3 linked regions of the Homo sapiens genome follow. The protein of the gene in region 1 purifies or fractionates together with the protein of each later gene. This does not show direct contact. Each region holds a gene or a part of one and is shown in the gene's direction. Other genes may lie near its edges.

Evidence for each region. The genes of interacting proteins can lie anywhere in the genome.
Region 2: the proteins of CYBRD1 (region 1) and MIER1 purify together in Homo sapiens (affinity purification with mass spectrometry; 2 studies listed by BioGRID and IntAct, with this or other methods). This does not show direct contact.
Region 3: the proteins of CYBRD1 (region 1) and MIER2 purify together in Homo sapiens (affinity purification with mass spectrometry; 2 studies listed by BioGRID and IntAct, with this or other methods). This does not show direct contact.

What each region holds. Positions count from the first base shown.
Region 1 is NC_000002.12:171,539,446-171,546,476, forward strand, and holds part of CYBRD1 (plasma membrane ascorbate-dependent reductase CYBRD1), read left to right. Parts: intron 1-2,139; coding exon 2,140-2,348; intron 2,349-7,031. UniProt on the Homo sapiens protein: Plasma membrane reductase that uses cytoplasmic ascorbate as an electron donor to reduce extracellular Fe(3+) into Fe(2+).
Region 2 is NC_000001.11:66,983,971-66,989,131, forward strand, and holds the end of MIER1 (mesoderm induction early response protein 1), read left to right. Parts: intron 1-601; coding exon 602-930; 3' UTR 931-2,432; coding exon of another isoform or gene 2,433-2,503; 3' UTR 2,504-4,649; downstream 4,650-5,161. UniProt on the Homo sapiens protein: Transcriptional repressor regulating the expression of a number of genes including SP1 target genes. Probably functions through recruitment of HDAC1 a histone deacetylase involved in chromatin silencing.
Region 3 is NC_000019.10:306,785-313,815, reverse strand, and holds part of MIER2 (mesoderm induction early response protein 2), read left to right. Parts: intron 1-172; coding exon 173-324; intron 325-1,543; coding exon 1,544-1,625; intron 1,626-1,876; coding exon 1,877-1,971; intron 1,972-4,890; coding exon 4,891-5,015; intron 5,016-5,150; coding exon 5,151-5,239; intron 5,240-6,279; coding exon 6,280-6,697; intron 6,698-7,031. UniProt on the Homo sapiens protein: Transcriptional repressor.

The sequences.
Region 1 (7,031 bases):
TACATTCCAGCCTGGGTGACAGAGAAAGAAAAGAAAAGAAATATACGTGATACCCTGCTGATATAGTGGAATCCATCGTCTGAGGAAGTATTCTATAAACTTTTTCAATCTGCCACACATTTCCAGATATCTAAATTTTCCCTGACACAGACTGGAGGGATGGATAGGGGCAGGATTTTATCTTCAGAACAAAAATTAACTGAATGTTGGTTAAGGTGGCCATATAATTTATTGCTTAAACCAGGACACTTAAGACAACCCTTTGTAAAAAAACTTTTGTTTTCTTTTTTTTTTTTTCCCCGAGACGGAGTCTTGCTCTGTCACCCAGGCTGGAGTGCAGTGGCATGATCTCAGCTCACTGCAACCTCTGCCTCCCAGGTTCAAGCGATTCTCCTGCCTCAGCCTCCCAAATAGCTGAGATTACAGGTATGCACCACAATGCCTGGCTAATTTTTTTGTATTTTTAGTAGAGACAGGGTTTCACCATGTTGGTCAGGCTGGTCTTGAACTCCTGACCTCAAGTGATCTGCCCACCTCGGCCTCCCAAAGTGTTGGGATTACAGGCGTGAGCCACCGCGCCAGGCCATAAAAAACTTAATTGGAGTTTGTTCTACATGCAGAATGATGAATCTTCTGTCTATGACACCTGTGAAACCAGCACCTAGATTGAGAAACAGAATGTTAGTAGGAGTCTTCAAAATCCCTTGTGTGTTCCATTGTAATTGCTGTATCCTTCCCCACGAAGGCAACTACTATCCTGACTTTTCCAATGCAGAGATGAGTTTTGCTGGTTTCTATACTTCATATAAATTGAATTACACTATATACTTGTTAACGTCTGGCTTCTTGAGATTGACATTATAGGTTGATCCATATTACTGGGTCTAGTTCTAGTTGTAGATCGTTTCTTTCCATGGTGTAAATTTATTTATTCATTCTATTGATGATGGGCATTTGGGGGAGTTTCCAGGTTTTGGTTACTATAAATAGTACTGCTAATAATATTCTAGTATCTTTTGATGATCATATAAATATTTCTTTTTGGCATATACCCGAGAGTGAAATTGCTGGACAATAAGGTATGCATAACTTTACCTTAAGTAGATACTGCCAGTTTTCCAAAGTTTTGTTCTCATTAAAGCACTCATCAGCAGAACATTAGAGTTCTGACTGCTGTATATTCATTTTGATACTTGGTGTTTTCCAGGTTTAGCCATTCAGATATGTGGTAGAGGTATTCTCATTCGGCTTAAATTTGTATTTCTCTATTGCATGGTTTAAATTTGCATGTTTTTCTGTTCCTTTCTTTTTCTTATCAAACTAAGACTTTTTTTTTTTTTTTTGTCTTCCTCTGTTGCCCAGGCTGGAGTGCAGTGGCGCAATCTCGGCTCACTGCAACCTCTGCCTCCCGGGTTCAAGCGATTCTCGTGCCTCAGCCTCCAGAATAGCTGGGATTACATGTGCATGCCACCCCATGCCTGGCTAATTTTTGTATTTTTAGTAGAGATGGGGTTTCACCATGTTGGCCAGGCTGGTCTTGAACTGCTGACCTCAAGTGATACCCCGCCTCAGCCTCTCAAAGTGCTGGGATTACAGGCATGAGCCACTGGGCCCGGCCAAACTGAGACATTTTTAAGAAGAAAGGAGACAACAGGCATAAATCAGATTGTTAAGATTAGGAATTTGGTTTTGGATAAGTTTGAGATGTCTGGGAAGCAAACGCCGTACGGAAATACCAAGAAGACATTGGATTATGCAGATCTGAAGCTTAGAAGACAGTTCTGGGCTGGAGATATAAATTTTTTGGAGTCCCTGCCATGGAGACAGCATTTCAGTGAAAGAGTGAATGAGATCACCCACAAGAGGGAGTGCAGAGGGAGAAAAAGCCCTAGGACCGAGCCTGAGAGGCACCAAGGTTCATTCACAAGTTGGGAGTGAAGAAAATGCCAGCAAAGGAACTCCTCCACCGTCCCCTAGAGGGAGCCACTGAGAGGCAGGGGTAACATGGGGAAGAGGGGAGAAGCAAAAGCCAAGGGAAAAAGGTTTCAAAAAGGGAGTGTCCAGTGTGTCAAACTGTTCATTTTGTGTTGTTTAAAAAACAAAACAAAACACATTCTGTGTCCTTTCGTCTTTCCCTAGCCATCATCGTCTACAGACTGCCGTGGACCTGGAAATGCAGCAAGCTCCTGATGAAATCCATCCATGCAGGGTTAAATGCAGTTGCTGCCATTCTTGCAATTATCTCTGTGGTGGCCGTGTTTGAGAACCACAATGTTAACAATATAGCCAATATGTACAGTCTGCACAGCTGGGTTGGACTGATAGCTGTCATATGCTATTTGTTACAGGTCAGTATTTCAGTGTATTTACAAGCAAGTTATAAAAACAATTCAGAGACTGTAAATGTTTTCTTTTCTTTTTTTTTTTTTTTTTTTTTGAGACAGAGTCTCGCTTAGCCACCCAGGCTGGAGTGCAGTGCTGCGATCTTGGCTCACTGCAACCACTGTCTCCAGGGTTCAAGTGATTCTCCTGTTTCAGCCTCCCAAGTAGCTGGGATTACAGGTACCCACCATCGTGCCAGGCTAATTTTTGTATTTTAGTAGAGATGGGGTTTCACCATGTTGGCCAGGCTAGTCTTGAACTCCTGACCTCAGGTGATCCGCCTGCCTCAGCCTCCCAAAGTGCTAGGATTACAGGTGTGAGCCACCGCGCCCAGTGACTGTAAATGTTTTCTAAACATTCTTTACATTTGTTTCTATTATAACTATTTTCCCCTCAGAGAGCACCAGAATTGCAGAATTCACAGAACAAAATAATAAGAAATAAAGATTTCTTATACTGGATATGACTTTTAATCTGGATTCTCTAAAAACCAACTTATACTCTGCTCTATATCTTAATATGTAAAATTAAGAAATATCAGGCTGGGCATGCTGGCTCATGCCTATAATTCCAGCATTTTCGAAGGCCGAGGTGGGAGGATCATTTGAGCTCCGAAGTTCAAGACCAGACTGGGCAACATAGGGAGACTGTCTCTACAAATAAAGGAAAGACAGAGAGAGAGATCGAGAGAGAGAGAAATCAAGAGAGAGACTGATCTAACAATTAGCAATAAAGAGAATACCTATTTAAAAATCTGTGGGTCCTGGCTGGGCATAGTGCACTGCTCACTCCTGTGATCCCAGCACTTTGAAAAGCTGAGACCAGTGGATCGCTTAAGCCCAGACGTTTGAGATCAGCTTGGGCAACATGGCGGAACCTCATCTCTAAAACAAAAACACAAAAATTAGCTGGGCAGGGTGGTGCACACCTGTTGTCCTGGCTACTTGGGATGATGAGGTGCACAGCTCCCTTGAGACCAGGAGGCAGAGGTTACAGTAAGCTGAGATTATACCATTGCACTCCAGCCTGGGCAACAGAGCCAGACCCTGATCTCAAAAAAATAAATAAATAAAAATCTTTGGGGTTTAATTAAAATGGTTCCCAGAGGAATATAGGCTTAAATGCTTTTATTATATTTTTTGGAAAGAAAACTTAAAATACATAAGCTATTTACTTAGGTAACTATAAGGGAACAGCAAAATATACCAGGAAAAGTAAATCAATAAAGGTAAAAAAAAATCCATAAATAATTCATTTTCTATTGTGGTAACCAATTACCACAGACTTAATGGCCTGAAACAACATAAATTTATGACCTCACAGTACCTGTACATCAGAAGTCCAGATTGGCTTGTCTGGTTTCTCTGCTCTGGGTCTAACAAGGCCAGTATCAAGGTGTCAGCCTTCCAGGGCTCTGATTGGGAGACTAGGGTAGAATCAGCTTAAAGCAAATTCAGCTTGATGGCAGAGTCCAGGTCCTTGTATGTGCAGGACTGAGGTCCCTGTTCCCTTGCTGGCCATCAGCTGGGGCTGCCCTGAACCTTGGAGTCCTCTCTTCCTTGTACCCGGCTCCCTTCATCTCCCTACCAGCAATGGACATCCAGTCCATCTCGCTGGCTTGGAAACTCTCTGACTTCTCCTTCTCCTTCCTCCTCATCTCTTCTCCTCAACCAGATAAAGTTCTTACCTACCCCAACCCCTAGAGGTTACCATTCTCCCGGTGTTTATTCTCATTCTCTGCTTTTTAAAATACTTTAATCACATACTGTGAATCAATATATTGATTAAACAAGATGTTTAATTAAATAATATTGATTAATTAAACAAGATGTTTAAATATTGATTAATTAAATCATATATTGTTTAATTTTGCTTTTTAAATGAAACTTTTTTTAAAAAATGGTCTCATATATATTCTATTGCAACTTTTTTTTAACTCTACTGATTAAACTGTATTGATTCCTCTGGCTATAGTTCATTCATTTTTACTTTTGTATTCCACTGTATAAATATGCCACAAATTTACTTACCTGTTCTCTTGCTATTTTCAGTTAGAAACTATGCTGCATTGAATATTCATATATACATCTCCTGGTCCTCACATCTAAAGGTTTCTCTGGGCATATACATAGTAGTGAAATTACAAGCTCAACCTAAAAAGATAATGCTAAATTGTTTTCCCAAGTGATTGACCCAGATTATATTCCTGCCAGAAGTTTATGAGTTCCCATATCCTTACCAGCTTGCACCCTCTTTAAACTTTAAATCCTTGCTAAACTAGTTGGTACTTAATGATGTATTCTTGTAGTTTTAATGTTCATTTCACTTGTGTTTTATCTTCTAAGACACACCTGTTTGTGTCTTTTGTCTATTTAAAAAATGTTTCTCTTTTTCTTAAAGATTTATAGGAATTCTATATCGAATTCTTTTTCATTTATATATATTGCTATATCTTCTCCTAGTTTGAAGCTTGCATTTTCTCTGTTGTTAACATCTTTTGATAAACAGAAATTGTCAATTTTAATGTAACCAAATTAATCATCTTTTCCTCTGAGACTATCATTCTTTGTTTTGTTTTCTTTTGGTGACTTGTTTATGAAATTCTTCTCTACCCTGAGGTCAAAATATCATCTTATGCTTTCTACTAAGAGCATTAAAATTTTGTCTTTTACTTTTCTACTCTAGTACACAGAAAAAACAAACCAAAAAAACCCCAACAATATGAAAAATAGTTTTGTCTTTGATATTTAAGTACTTACTTCATCTGGAATTAATTTTAATGTGTGAGGTGATGTGATTCAACTTCATTTTTTTCCAGATGGGTAAACTATCTTCCCATCACCATTTATTGAATCATCTCTGCTCCTACTATTTATGTACAAAGCCAATTGCATCCTATAGAGTATCTTATCCTCTGTATCCTAGCCAGTGCAGTACAGAATTCAAGTGTGTAGAAGTACTGAAGTATGTAGAAGTGTATAGAAGCCATAAGAAGTAGAGAAGTAGAGAGAAAAATCTTTGACTTTTGGGGCCAGGCACAGTGGCTCATACCCATAATTCCAGCACTTTGGGATGCCTAGGTGGGAGGATTGCTTGAGCTCAGGAGTTCCAGACCAGCCTGGGAAACATGGCAAAACCCCGTCTGTACAAAAGATATAAAAATAAGCCAGCTCTGGTGGTGCACACCTGTGGTCCCAGCTACTCAGAAGGCTGAGATAGGAGGATTGCTTAAGCCTGGGAGGTCAAGGCTGCAGTGAGCTGAGATCCCACCACTGAACTCCAGCCTGGGTGACACAGCAAGACCCTGTCTCAAAAAAAAAAAAAAAAAAAGAATCTTTGACTATTTTTTATTTTAAAGAGAATGCCTGCCAAAGGCTAAAAAAGAATTAATAAATAAAAAGAATGCTTCTAATATTTTACCATTGAGTACAGATGCGTCACATTTCCTCCTACCCCTGTTTGTGCAAAGGTTTTGTTTTTCTTCTTAAATCATAAATGGATGTGGAATTTTATTGAATGCTTTTGCTATCTCTGCTGAGATGAATATACCTTTTTTGTTTTTTTTTTTTGAGATGGAGTCTTGCTCTATCACCCAGGCTGGAGTGCAGTGCTGCCACCTTGGCTCACTGCAACACCTGCCTCCTAGGCTCAAGCAATTCTCCTGCCTCAGCCTCCCGAGTAGCTGGGATTACAGGCTCGTGCCACAACATGTGGCTAATTTTTTTTTTTTTTTTTTTTTTTAGTAGAGACGGGGTTTCACCATGTTGGTCAGGCTGGTCTCGAACTCCTGACCTCAAATGATCCACCCGCCTCGGCCTCCCAAAGTGCTGGGATTACAGGTGTGAACCATCACGTCCGGCCAATGTTTATTTATTTTTTAATTGATGTATAATAATCATAACATATTTTTGTGGTACATATGATATTTTGATAAAAGTATACAATGGGTAATGAACAAATCAGGGTAATTGGGATACCCATTATTTCATTTATCTTTACTTTGTGTTGGGAGCATTCCAGTTCTTCTCTTCTAGGTATTTTGAAATATACAATAAATTATTACTAACGGTAAACACCCTACCTTAAGTTTTCTTCTTTAACATCTTAATGTAGTCAATTATATAAATATATTCTATTTTTAAACTTGGGTGAGTTAAAAACATATTTGTCTCAAAATTCTCTTTTGCTGTCTGAAATATCCAGATTCATATCTCGCGTTGTTGTCTTTGTGCTAACCGAGCTTCTCAGAAATATTATTTCACAACTTCATGGCTTTGCTTAGTGGGAGGAATTTTGGCACCTGGCTTCTTCCTTGCTCAGATCCAGAGGACAGGTAGTGTTTAAGAAAACAGGATTTGCAATTAGGAAGACCTCAGTTTGGATTAGGTTCATCCATTTGATAGTTGGTGACCGTGGACCAAGTTACTTCTCTGAATTTCTTTTGCACAGCTATAAATCAAGGATTATAATCCTTCACAAAATCATAAGAATCAAAGCCAAATAATGCATCTAAAGGTCCAGCCCAGGGCTTAGCACACTGGTATAACACAAACTAGCTGTTGTTATTATAAGTGTAAATCCTGTGGTATGCCCCTTTATGACCTGCAGATGACATTTTCCACTTCTACTATTGATCATAGGTACCTTCA
Region 2 (5,161 bases), on another chromosome or scaffold:
GCCTTGGCCTCCCAAAGTGCTGGGAATACAGGCGTGAGCCACTGCACCCAGCCTTGTGTGATCTTTTAAAGTACAGTTCCCATAGATTTACATTAAGAATAAAAAAGTCATGACATCTTGCTTTTATATGGCAGTTTACTCAAGCTTTTTAAAGAAAGAGCATTCATCTTGCTTTTACGTGGTTTTAGAATGTTGAAAACCTTTTGTTAAATCTGAGTAATTTACTGCATTTTCCATTAATTCAGCTTAGTTAGACTGCTGGATCCAGTGCTTGTTTGCTGTCACATATACCTAATATGCTTTTAACATATGCCAAATTCTGTTCTTAGTTCTTTACATTTATTAACTTATTTAATTTTCACAACAACCCTGTGAGGAATATCTATTATGATCTTCATTGTATATATGTAATGAAATGGAGATACAGAAAGAGTAAATAATTTGCCTAAGGCGACATAGCTTATAAGTAATAGAGCAAGAATTTAGACTATGTATTTGATACCTTGCTTCCTTGATAACAATAACTACAAGCTGTTTTATAATAGTTTGCAAATTTAACTTTTTTCTAATTGTGGTTTCATTTATATTTCTTTCAACTTAGGAGTGTCATCTAATGGACCAGGTGAAATATTAAACAAAGAGGAAGTAAAAGTTGAAGGGTTACACATTAATGGACCAACAGGTGGAAATAAGAAACCACTTCATGCAGATATGGATACTAATGGTTATGAAACAGATAACCTTACCACTGACCCAAAACTTGCCCATATGACTGCAAGAAATGAAAATGATTTTGATGAAAAAAGTGAGAGACCTGCCAAAAGGCGAAGGGTAAACAGCAATGGAAAAGAAAGTCCAGGTTCTTCTGAATTTTTCCAAGAAGCAGTCTCACATGGGAAATTTGAAGAACTTGAAAACACAGATGACTAAATTTTAGACCTATTTTACTTTCTTTGGAGTAAATTCTGGTGTGACTAAAATTTTCAGGGTTGATGGGTTACCTTAAAAAGTTGATTTCCTTGAAGCAGTTTGAAAATTTGAATTGAGTCTTAACTTTAGGAAATGAGGTTTCATAATTCTGCCTTTTGCAGATTTTTTTACTTTAAAGCTGTCAGACTCTTTTAAGGGTATTTTAAAAATTAGTAAATTTGAATGAACTAAAGATATATCTCTACCTTCTCATTTGAATATCTTTAGTTCATTCAGATTTACTAATTTTGGTAAATCTGAATGAACTAAAGATGTATCTGTACCTTCTCATTTGATGTATTAATCATAAAATTTCACTACAAGGTAATTTTTGCTTAGTTTGATGGATGAATGGGAAACTCAAGTCCAAATTTCTGCTTAATACCAATTTCTCTGAGTTTCTTGAAATGTCTTTAAAACAGACATTTTTCTCACCAAACAGTTTGAGTATCTTTATTAAGGAAACCCTTACGAATCCTGAAAATTATGCTAGCATGATTTTTTTATATATAGAAGTTTAAAAATAAACCAGGTCAGGTTTGTATATGTAAAATTGTTGACATCAATGATGTCTTTCCATATTCTTATCTGGGCTTAAGAAATACATTCTGTATTTTTCCAGATTCTTTGTAGCCTTTGAAAGATTTTTACAGTACATATGTCTTGACTGAGCTGTCCTTTCTTAATACAAAAGCGTGTATAATTTTCTTAACTTGTACAGTTGGTAAACTTTTATGAGAGGAATTGTTATTCTGAGTCTGTCAGCTTTCATTTTATTTTGCTAAGGTTTTTCTAATGAATTTTTAAGTGTTTGTGTAGTAATTAAGTCATATTTCTTATCCAGGTGGTTAAAGCATTCATAAAGGATTATAAAATTTTTTTTTTTTTTTTTTTTTTTAAATTTCTACTTAAGGGCAAGTAATTTGAGAATTCTGAAATTAAGCATGATGCTTAGATTGCAGTTTGTTTTGCATTTGCTATAATTTTCAAAATTATTTTTGAAGCAAGACAAAAGTTTAATGTCAGCTTAAGTGCTTAAATATATCATGCTGACCAGAATCCTGTTATTTTTATATGCATCATAAAATTTCCCATTTCTGCATTAAATAAACAGAGGAGGGGGGTCAAGTGATACTTAGATATTGGCACACACAAGGAACAACTGTTGGCAGGCAGTATCGATTTTATGAAGAGAAAGTGAAGTTTGAAAACTTTTCAAACTTTTCTAGTTACAATCCAATTTTTCAGATTTGATAATGCTTTTCCAAAGTGAAAATAAGATACACAATAATCATTGCTCTGTGTGATTACAGATAGGATTATCCATCTGCATAGCCTTGTAAAAGTGCCATTTTATTTTTAGTGCTAAATTCTTGTTAAATAATGTAGTTTTATATAGCTGATAGACCAACCTATATCCAAACTTTTATAAAATATTAATTATTCTTGTTTTTCTCACACAGGCATACTCCAAATGCTTCTTCCAGTTCATTTTTCAGCCATCAGTTCAAGAGCCAATGCCTTTTTAAAATAAAGCTTCTGTGGTCTTGTTTTTAATGGCTCAACTGTCTGATGTAATTGAGTGAAGGTTTGCACTGAGAAATTAGCATTCAGGCCTTACCCCCATGAAGTATTACTGTTAACATATGTTCGGACTGCTTCCCTTCACCAATGTGAACAACTTTTTTTCCCAAACAGTGTTAAAAGCCACTTTGCAACACTTGACTTCATCTTAATGTACATTCACTGTTGTTACATACATATCTAAGTAAATCAAAGTTTTGGGTGGAAGTGTTGAGAAGTATGAGTTTTTTGTTGTTTTTGTTTTACTTAAAACTTTTAATTTATCCAGAATGGCAGTAGCTTTAGCAAGCAGATGGTCACAATCTGTTTTCTAAATCATTTTTTATTAAATGAATCCAAAGTATCCTAGCTCTTTGTCAAAGATGGTCTGTAGAAATGTTTTTAAAGATTAGGGATGCTGTACTTTTTGAATTGTTGCAGTGTTGGAGATGCCATTTTCACCTTTTTAAAAAGATGCATTTTATTTGCAGGTTTGTGAAGTTCTTGCAAACTCTTACTACAGAAATGTTTTAAATACATTCTCAGGCATGTTTGCAAAAATATGGCACATGTATACATTTTAGGAAATGTTACTTTTGTTAATCTTTAAAAAATACACCTAATGAAAGACATTCCACTATTATGCGTAATGCTCAGCTTTTTGTAAAGAAATATTTAATTGTATTTTGTGTTTATACAGGTATTTCACACAATAATTTGTTCTTAATGCAGCCACTATAACTTGATAAGTCATTGCACTATTTAAAAAGTTTTAGTAATATCATGAATTTAATTTGCTTAAGATTTAGTACATTTCAGAACTTTTGAACTTTTGACAAATTGCATTGGAAAAAGAAGTCTGTTAATAGTGATTTAGTCTCCCCGCCTCATTCCCACCCCCAACAAAGCACTATCATTTTCATTTGGAATGGGTATTTTCTGTTTCATGATGTATTTTCAAATAGAGTTCAGGATCTGCAATTCAGTTCAACACAAGTTTGTTGAGCTTTAAAATGTATTTGAAGTAATATTTAAATAGGCATTTAAAATTTCAAATTAGATGTTAAATTTATGCATAGTAATTTTGCACTGTAAAATAATTCCCTTCTCCCATTCCTTGTCTGCCATTCTGAATATGCTTATTAAAATATTTTTTTAAACATATTTGCCTACATAATACTGTGTGAATATTTTCATTAGATTAATTCACTAAGATTTTATTAGAGATTGTTTGAATGATGCATGTTATTGACAAGGCAAATATATATATATACACAGTCTGTTTCTTCTATTCCTAGACATATTGCACTACTTTTTCAGTGGTTCTTGGTCCCCTTTACCACATCTTGGGTGATGTATTTTTGTCTTCTTCCCCTTTGCCACAAGAGATCCTTTCAGTCCCTAGACCTCCATTCACTCTGTTTCTCTTCTGCTGGATTATATAATTTAAAAATAATGTGTTCCCGTATTTTGTAGTGGAGTTCATATCACATTATGTTTTGCAAAATAAAACTTGTTTTGTCACAATATTTTCTTTGCTATCGATGGATAATTAGGAGTGGGCACTTGGAATAACTGAGGGCTGGTGAATATAATAGGCAATATTTACATGGGGTGTGTAACTAAATACCAAATCAGATAGTAAGGTTTTCCCAACTATAATCCATATTCATGAAAAATGCCAGTGTGGAAAACCATGTAACATACAGAAGAACAGGAGTTTCCAAATTTTAACCTTTTATTCTAAAAATGACTCTCTTCTCTCAAAATGACTTTTTCTGTATCACATAATTCTACTGATACAACTTTTTACCGTAAAAATTAACTCTCTTCTTTAATATCAAGTTCATCCTTTGCAGAATCTTAAAGGGTTTTCCACACATCCATCCACCCACTTACAGACTGATTTCATGTATCTGAATATCTGATTAACCTTTCTTTTCTAATACCAGTTTTCCATAAACTCTTGTCATGTACCCTTAGTATTGTGCTGATCTTTTGCCAACTATACGGACGTGGAGTTTTTCCTTTTCAGAATATGATTATTTTCAATTTGTCTTTAGTTAGTATAAAGAATTATAGAATGTATAATGTAATTAAAATGTCATTTTGCTTGCTCTTGAGTAAGAAGTAATTTGAACACACTTTTAAAGGCTACTTATTCTGTGAAGAATATTGAAGAATTGCCATGTAAACGAGATGAGATGGATTCTAATTGTCCAAATTGATGGTGACAGTTTCACATTTAAATGTCAATGATGACAAGCTTTCATTATGTTTCCATATACTCTAATATCCAGCAAATATTTCGGCCTATACTTGTACCAGGTACTATGCTTGCTTGGCTTGTGGCTTCAGAGATGCGGCATGCCCTGTTCTTCAAGAAGGCAGCAAAGTGTTAATGGTAGAAAAGTAAAGTGTATTCTGAGTACAGAGACAGCAAAAAGAGGAATAGGCACGATCTCAAGAAAATGAGTTTACCTTCCTCTTTGCCATGTAAGTCTAGCTAAATATTTTTCTTTTGTCAAACTTCGTATTTGCTGGAAATTAACCAACATGAAATGCATGATTTTCCCTAAGAAATTTTGTCTTTTAAAAAAAAAATTTCCTGCAGAGCTGGTTCTACCAT
Region 3 (7,031 bases), on another chromosome or scaffold:
CAGCAGCACCAAGCCCAGGAGGAGCACAGGGATGGCGGCCCAGGGCTTGGGAAAGGGAGGACGGACAGTGCCTCCTCCCTGTCAGGGGCTGAGTTGGCTGCTTTGCTTGTCCTGGCGTGTGTGGGTGCAGATTGGGTTCCTGCAAGCTGACCTTTGCCCTCTGCTTGTGCAGTCTACGAGAACGAAGACCAGCTGCTCTGGGACCCCAGCGTCCTCCCTGAGAGGGAGGTGGAGGAGTTCCTGTACAGGGCGGTGAAGCGGCGTTGGCACGAGATGGCCGGGCCTCAGCTCCCAGAGGGAGAAGCCGTGAAAGACAGTGAGCAGGTGGGGGCTGCCATGCCGGGGACAGAGGGGCTGAGGGCTGCCGTGGCGTGGGCCAGAGCTCACACCCCAGTGCCTCCAGGGGCCAGGGAGGGCAGAGGGGAGGGCAGGGGTCAGGTGTGTGGGGGCCAGGGCACTGGAACAGCTACTCAGGTCAGAAGGGGGGCCAATTAAAACCACGTATCAGGGAGGAGGTGTAGACGCCTCCGGGTATCCTGCAAGGGGATGTAGACACCCCTGATGTCACTCCCTGGATAGAGGTGTAGGTGGCCCTGACATCGCCCAGGAGGATGGTGTGGACGGCCCCTGATGCCAGTCCCTGGATAGAGGTGTAGGTGGCTCTGACATCGCCCAGGAGGGTGGTGTGGACGGCCCCTGATGCCAGTCCCTGGATAGAGGTGTAGGTGGCCCTGACATCGCCCAGGAGGGTGGTGTGGACGGCCCCTGATGTCACTCCCTGGATAGAGGTGTAGGTGGCCCTGACATCGCCCAGGAGGGTGGTGTGGACGGCCCCTGATGTCACTCCCTGGATAGAGGTGTAGGTGGCCCTGACATCGCCCAGGAGGGTGGTGTGGACGGCCCCTGATGTCACTCCCTGGATAGAGGTGTAGGTGGCCCTGACATTGCCCAGGAGGGTGGTGTGGACGGCCCCTGATGTCACTCCCTGGATAGAGGTGTAGGTGGCCCTGACATCGCCCAGGAGGGTGGTGTGGACGGCCCCTGATGTCACTCCCTGGATAGAGGTGTAGGTGGCCCTGACATCGCCCAGGAGGGTGGTGTGGACGGCCCCTGATGTCACTCCCTGGATAGAGGTGTAGGTGGCCCTGACATCGCCCAGGAGGGTGGTGTGGACGGCCCCTGATGCCAGTCCCTGGATAGAGGTGTAGGTGGCTCTGACATCGCCCAGGAGGGTGGTGTGGACGGCCCCTGATGTCACTCCCTGGATAGAGGTGTAGGTGGCCCTGACATCGCCCAGGAGGGTGGTGTGGACGGCCCCTGATGTCACTCCCTGGATAGAGGTGTAGGTGGCCCTGACATCGCCCAGGAGGGTGGTGTGGACGGCCCCTGATGTCACTCCCTGGATAGAGGTGTAGGTGGCTCTGACATCGCCCAGGAGGGTGGTGTGGACGGCCCCTGATGCCACTCGCTGGATGGTATAGACAGTTCTTGCTGTCGGCTCCTGCGCTGAGCCCATGGAAGAGCCAACATGTCCTCTCCCCAGGCGCTGTACGAGTTGGTGAAATGCAACTTCAATGTGGAGGAGGCCCTGCGAAGGCTGCGGTTCAACGTGAAGGTGATCCGAGGTGAGCAGCGGTCTGGGCCTTCCTTCCGCTGCGGCCCCGCCCTGGGCACTGCTGACCGTTCTCCCCGGCCTGGGCCTTCCTTCCGCTGCGGCCCCGCCCTGGGCGCCGCTGACCGTTCTCCCCGGCCTGGGCCTTCCTTCCGCTGCGGCCCCGCCCTGGGCGCCGCTGACTGTTCTCCCCGGCCTGGGCCTTCCTTCCGCTGCGGCCCCGCCCTGGGCACCACTGACCGTTCTCCCCGGCCGTGTTTGCAGATGGGCTCTGTGCTTGGAGTGAAGAGGAGTGCAGGAACTTTGAGCACGGCTTCCGTGTGCATGGAAAGAACTTTCACCTGATCCAGGCCAACAAGGTGCGGACTCCACTGCCAGGCTCCACCGGGGGCTTCTCGATCTGGGGAGGGGCTCAGGGTCCGCAGGCACACAGCACACGGCCGACTGGAGGCCTGGAGCCCCGTGTCCTGTGTCCGCCTCCTCACCGTGTGCCCATTGCTGTCTTCTGCATTTTTTGCTACTGACTGCTGTGGGCCCCTTTCCTGTCCCCACAAGAACAAGGCTCTGGCTTTGGGAAAGAATGTGGCAAAAGCTGAATTCTAGTAGTTGTTTCTGCCTCACATTCCACCCCAGGGCCCTGGGCACCTCATCTTCAAGTCTGTGTCCTCTGAGCAGAGCCTGCTGGCTCAGTGTCCAGCATTGGCCCCACAGCAGAACCCCTGACACCTGGAGACCAGGGGTCTCCTGGTTCCCTCCTCCAGGGACCCAGGTCCTGCCACCCGGGACAAACCCTCATGACAGGCAGGTGCTGCCAAGTGCCGGGGCCTTCTGCCCTTCCTTAGACCTTCCCCACGTCCTCTGTGGGTCTCTGCATGTCTGCAGCAGTGCCCTCTGCCCTGTGGCTTCTTGAGTGGTAACTTCCAAGCCAGCCTCTTGGCAGTCAGACATCTCTGGCTGAAAACCTTCCCATGGCTCTGACCAGTGGCTTCTCCGCCTCTGTCCACGCCCCGGTTGGGCACTGAGTCCCTTCAGGACCAGTGGGCTGTGGCCTTGTTGCCGAGCCTTGCTTCTGCCTCGTGTCCTGGGACCGTGCTCCATTTGGGGCCCGATGTCGTCCACTGAAGGGCTTGGGTGAGGAGGCACCTGCCCGGGGCTGGTTGTACGGCTCAGGACATTGCTCAGGTGACTGTGCGGTGCCGTGCGCAGCAGCGATGGACTGTCCTTGTCAGACTCCAGCACCACGTGGTGTTTTGATTGGAGACAGCGGGGCGAGGTGTGGCTGGAGTGTGGTGCTCCCAGGCTACACTTGGAGCCCCTGTCAAGTTTCTGTAGCTCCGGGCCGTGTTTCTGGAGTTGTGGGCCGTGTTTCTGGACTCCTGGCCGTGTTTCTACAGCTCCAGGCTGTGTTTCTGGACTCTGGGCCGTGTTTCTATGGACTCCGTGTTTCTGTAGCTCCGGGCTGTGTTTCTACAGCTCCGGGCCATGTTCCTATAGCTCCGGGCCGTGTTTCTATAGCTCTGGGCTGTGTTTCTGGAGCTTCGGGCTGTGTTTCTGGACTCTGGGCTGTTTCTATAGCTCCGGGCTGTGTTTCTATAGCTCCCGGCTGTGTTTCTGCAGCTCCCGGCCGTGTTTCTATAGCTCCGGGCCGTGTTTCTGCAGCTCCGGGCCGTGTTTCTATAGCTCAGGGCCGCGTTTTTGTAACTCCCGGCCGTGTTTCTGGAGCTCCGGGCAGGTCCTGGCCCAGCCGCGAGGGGCCGTGTGTAGCCAGCACACGTTGGTCAGCCTGAGCCAGTGCGTATTTCACCCTGGCCCTTCACAGAAGAGCTCCCTCGTGGCGTGCGTTTGAGGTTTGCCCTGCAGGGAGGTTGTCTCGGTCTCGCCCCCAGGCAGGACCCCACGTTGTTCTCGCAGCGGTGAGCATGGGGCATCCTCGTTCTGGGTGGCGGTGGGTTAGTTGGCCCAGAGCATGTCCAGGTGAGGGGGTCTTTTCCGCCATCACCAGCAGTGGCCACAGCCTCAAGCTCTCTGTGGGATGAGCCTCCCGGGTGGAGATGTTGGAGGTGTTGCCAGGTGTGCGCCCAGCTCTGTGCCAGGTGCCACATGGAACACACTTGCTGTGTGTCCCTTCTCGTGTCCCTGAAGCCTTGTGTGCGTGTGTGTGTGTGTCCCTTCTCGTCTCCCTGAAGCCTTGTGTGCGTGTGTGTGTGTGTCCCTTCTCGTCTCCCTGAAGCCTTGTGTGCGTGTGTGTGTCTCTTCTCGTCTCCCTGAAGCCTTGTGTGCGTGTGTGTGTGTGTCCCTTCTCGTGTCCCTGAAGCCTTGTGTGCGTGTGTGTCCCTTCTCGTCTCCCTGAAGCCTTGTGTGCGTGTGTGTGTGTGTCCCTTCTCGTCTCCCTGAAGCCTTGTGTGTGTGTGTGTGTGTCCCTTCTCGTCTCCCTGAAGCCTTGTGTGCGTGTGTGTGTGTCCCTTCTCGTGTCCCTGAAGCCTTGTGTGCGTGTGTGTGTCCCTTCTCGTCTCCCTGAAGCCTTGTGTGTGTGTGTGTGTGTGTGTCCCTTCTCGTCTCCCTGAAGCCTTGTGTGCGTGTGTGTGTCCCTTCTCGTCTCCCTGAAGCCTTGTGTGTGTGTGTGTGTGTGTCCCTTCTCGTCTCCCTGAAGCCTGTGTGCATGTGTGTTTGGCCCTTTATGTGCTACGTTGGGAATTTTGTCGGGTTCACAGAACCCATGTGTCCTTCTGCGGTGTCTTCTGTGCACTTGGGAAGCATTCGCTGGGCCCTGGAGGGATGTGTTCGGTGGGAAAGCAGGCGCCGCGGGCTTGTGCCTCTTCCTCCCGGGGAAGGGGCTCAGTCCAGGAGTCTGTGGACCCGGGGGTTGTCACTCCCACTCCCACCCCGGGCCTGTGAGAAGCAGGCAGATGAGGTGGACGCAACTGGCCCGTGGCTCATGGTCTGGGATGGGGTGGGTGAGCAGTAGACAGAGGCCTGGAGGGTACGTTTGTCTGGCTGATGCTACAGAAGGGAAAGGGGTCTCAAGCCAGGAGCTGGAGGGCTCTGAGGGGGCTTGAAACAGGAGGCAGTGCCACAGTGCTCCGAGCCCCTGTTCCCTGTGGTGGGCATAGCCTGTGGCCTGTTAGGGTCATGGGTCGGGGGGTCTTGCGTTATCTGAGAGTGGTGGGTGCTGTGCTCCTTCTGTGCTGTCCCGGGGTCCCAGGACGTCCTGGGATCGTGGTGCAGGTGCTGGGGCTGGGCAGCCGGGGACAGAGATGGCTCCTGACCCCTCCCCGCAGGTGCGCACACGGTCAGTGGGCGAGTGTGTCGAGTACTACTACCTGTGGAAGAAGTCGGAGCGCTACGACTACTTCGCCCAGCAGACGCGGCTGGGCCGGAGGAAGTACGTCCCGTCCGGAACCACGTGCGTGCAGCCCTCCCCAGCAGTAACGACAGGCGGCCACCCCGCCGGGGGTGGGCACGTGGGCGCCTGGGCGGCACCTCTTGGGTGGGGGCGTCTGTCCTGTCTGCCGCCCCTCATGGCGCCCTCTCCCCACAGGGACGCAGACCAGGACCTGGATGGCAGCGACCCCGATGGCCCCGGCCGTCCGCGCCCGGAGCAAGACACCCTGACTGGGATGCGCACAGGTGAGGCTTGGGGAGTATCTCCTGCCCTGGGGGCGGCCACGGGTCTGGAGCCGTGAGTGAGGCCCGGTGGAGCCTCTCCTGCCTGGCGCCCTGTGCTGGGCCAGCCTCGCCAGGAGGAGTGGGCGTCTGGGTGGCGGAGGGCAGCCACGTGATGTGGATGCCGCTCTGTACACCTGGCTGGGAGAGGGGAGGGCAGGGATTACGCTTACCCTCTGGGCTTGCTGGAGGGGTGCATGTGGCCCCACTGCTGGGGAGCCCCGTATGGTGAGGTTGGGGTATTTACCAGGCCTCAGTCTCCGGGGAGGGCCTTCCTGCCCCAGGGTGGGGACTTAGCCCGTCACCAGGACACTCAGGAAGGACAGGGTGTCCGGAGCCGTCGCCAGGATCTTGCACCTGAGGCCATGACGGAGCACAGCAGGGCCTCGGGTAGGGACCATGTCCGATGGTGGTGTCTGATGTGGCGTCCGAAGGTGGAGACCCACACGGGGAGGGTGCAAACGAGGATCCTTTGCTTTCTGGCTCTGTGTTTAGATGGTTGAGTCTGGGAGGGTCCCCCATTTCCAGAGTCTGGTTGTTTCCATGGTTTGTTTGCCAAAGGGTGTCCACCTCGGCTACTTCCTAGAATTGTGGTGAGGCCCCTTGCGCTGCCTGTGGGAACAAAACTTCCAAAGACCCTGTATTAGCCCTCGCAGCGCCCCCGGCATTGTTTACACCTAAGTCTGTGTATTCCACAGACCCTGTATTTACCCTCTGCAGTGCCCCCGGCATTGTTTACACCTATGTCTATTGTATTCTGCTCTTTTTAAAGATGTGGGTTGTGACCCACTGTTGGTCTGATGAACTAAAATCTACTTCTAAAGCTGAGACCCTTAACCTGGGGCTCGCGGATTTCAGTGTAACTGGTGTCTTTTGTATTTGTGTGGAGGCTTTTCTGGGGAGGGATCCACAGGCTTTGCTGGACCCAGCAAAGTTAGGCAGGAGCCTGCACAGGATCCGCGGCTGTGGGCAGGCCCCACCCTCTGTTGCGTTCTCTTTCACAGATCCACTGAGCGTGGATGGCACGGCCGGTGGTCTCGATGAGCCCGGAGTGGCCTCTGATGGACTCCCGTCCTCGGAGCCAGGGCCGTGTTCCTTCCAGCAGCTGGATGAGTCCCCCGCTGTACCCCTGTCCCATCGGCCCCCAGCCCTGGCCGACCCAGCCTCATACCAGCCAGCTGTCACTGCTCCGGAGCCAGACGCCAGCCCAAGGCTGGCCGTGGACTTCGCCCTGCCCAAGGAGCTGCCCCTCATCTCCAGCCATGTGGACCTCAGCGGGGATCCGGAGGAGACTGTGGCCCCAGCACAGGTGGCTTTGTCGGTCACCGAGTTTGGACTCATCGGCATTGGGGACGTGAACCCCTTCCTGGCCGCCCACCCCACGTGCCCGGCCCCCGGGCTACACTCGGAGCCCCTGTCACAGTGAGTGCCACCCCATGCCCGGAGCCTCCGCAACACTCCAACCAGGTCCCCCCAGCCCTCAGGCTGAGCAGAGGAGGGTGGGAGGCATTTGCCCCAAGGACCCGAGGACAGTGTGGCTCCACGAGCAGGCTCTCAGTGTGTCTTTAGGTTTATTCTTTACTTGTATGTATTTTTTGACTGGAGAATACATTCATGTGGTCCACATTCTCCACAAATGGGAGCAGGTGCCAGGCTGTCCCACCCCTGCTCCAGCCACCAGCTCCCCTCAGGGCACCCCGGGCCCGGCTGCCATAGGCTGTGGGGGAGGCAAGGCTGGGAGTCTCGAGTCCAGCGC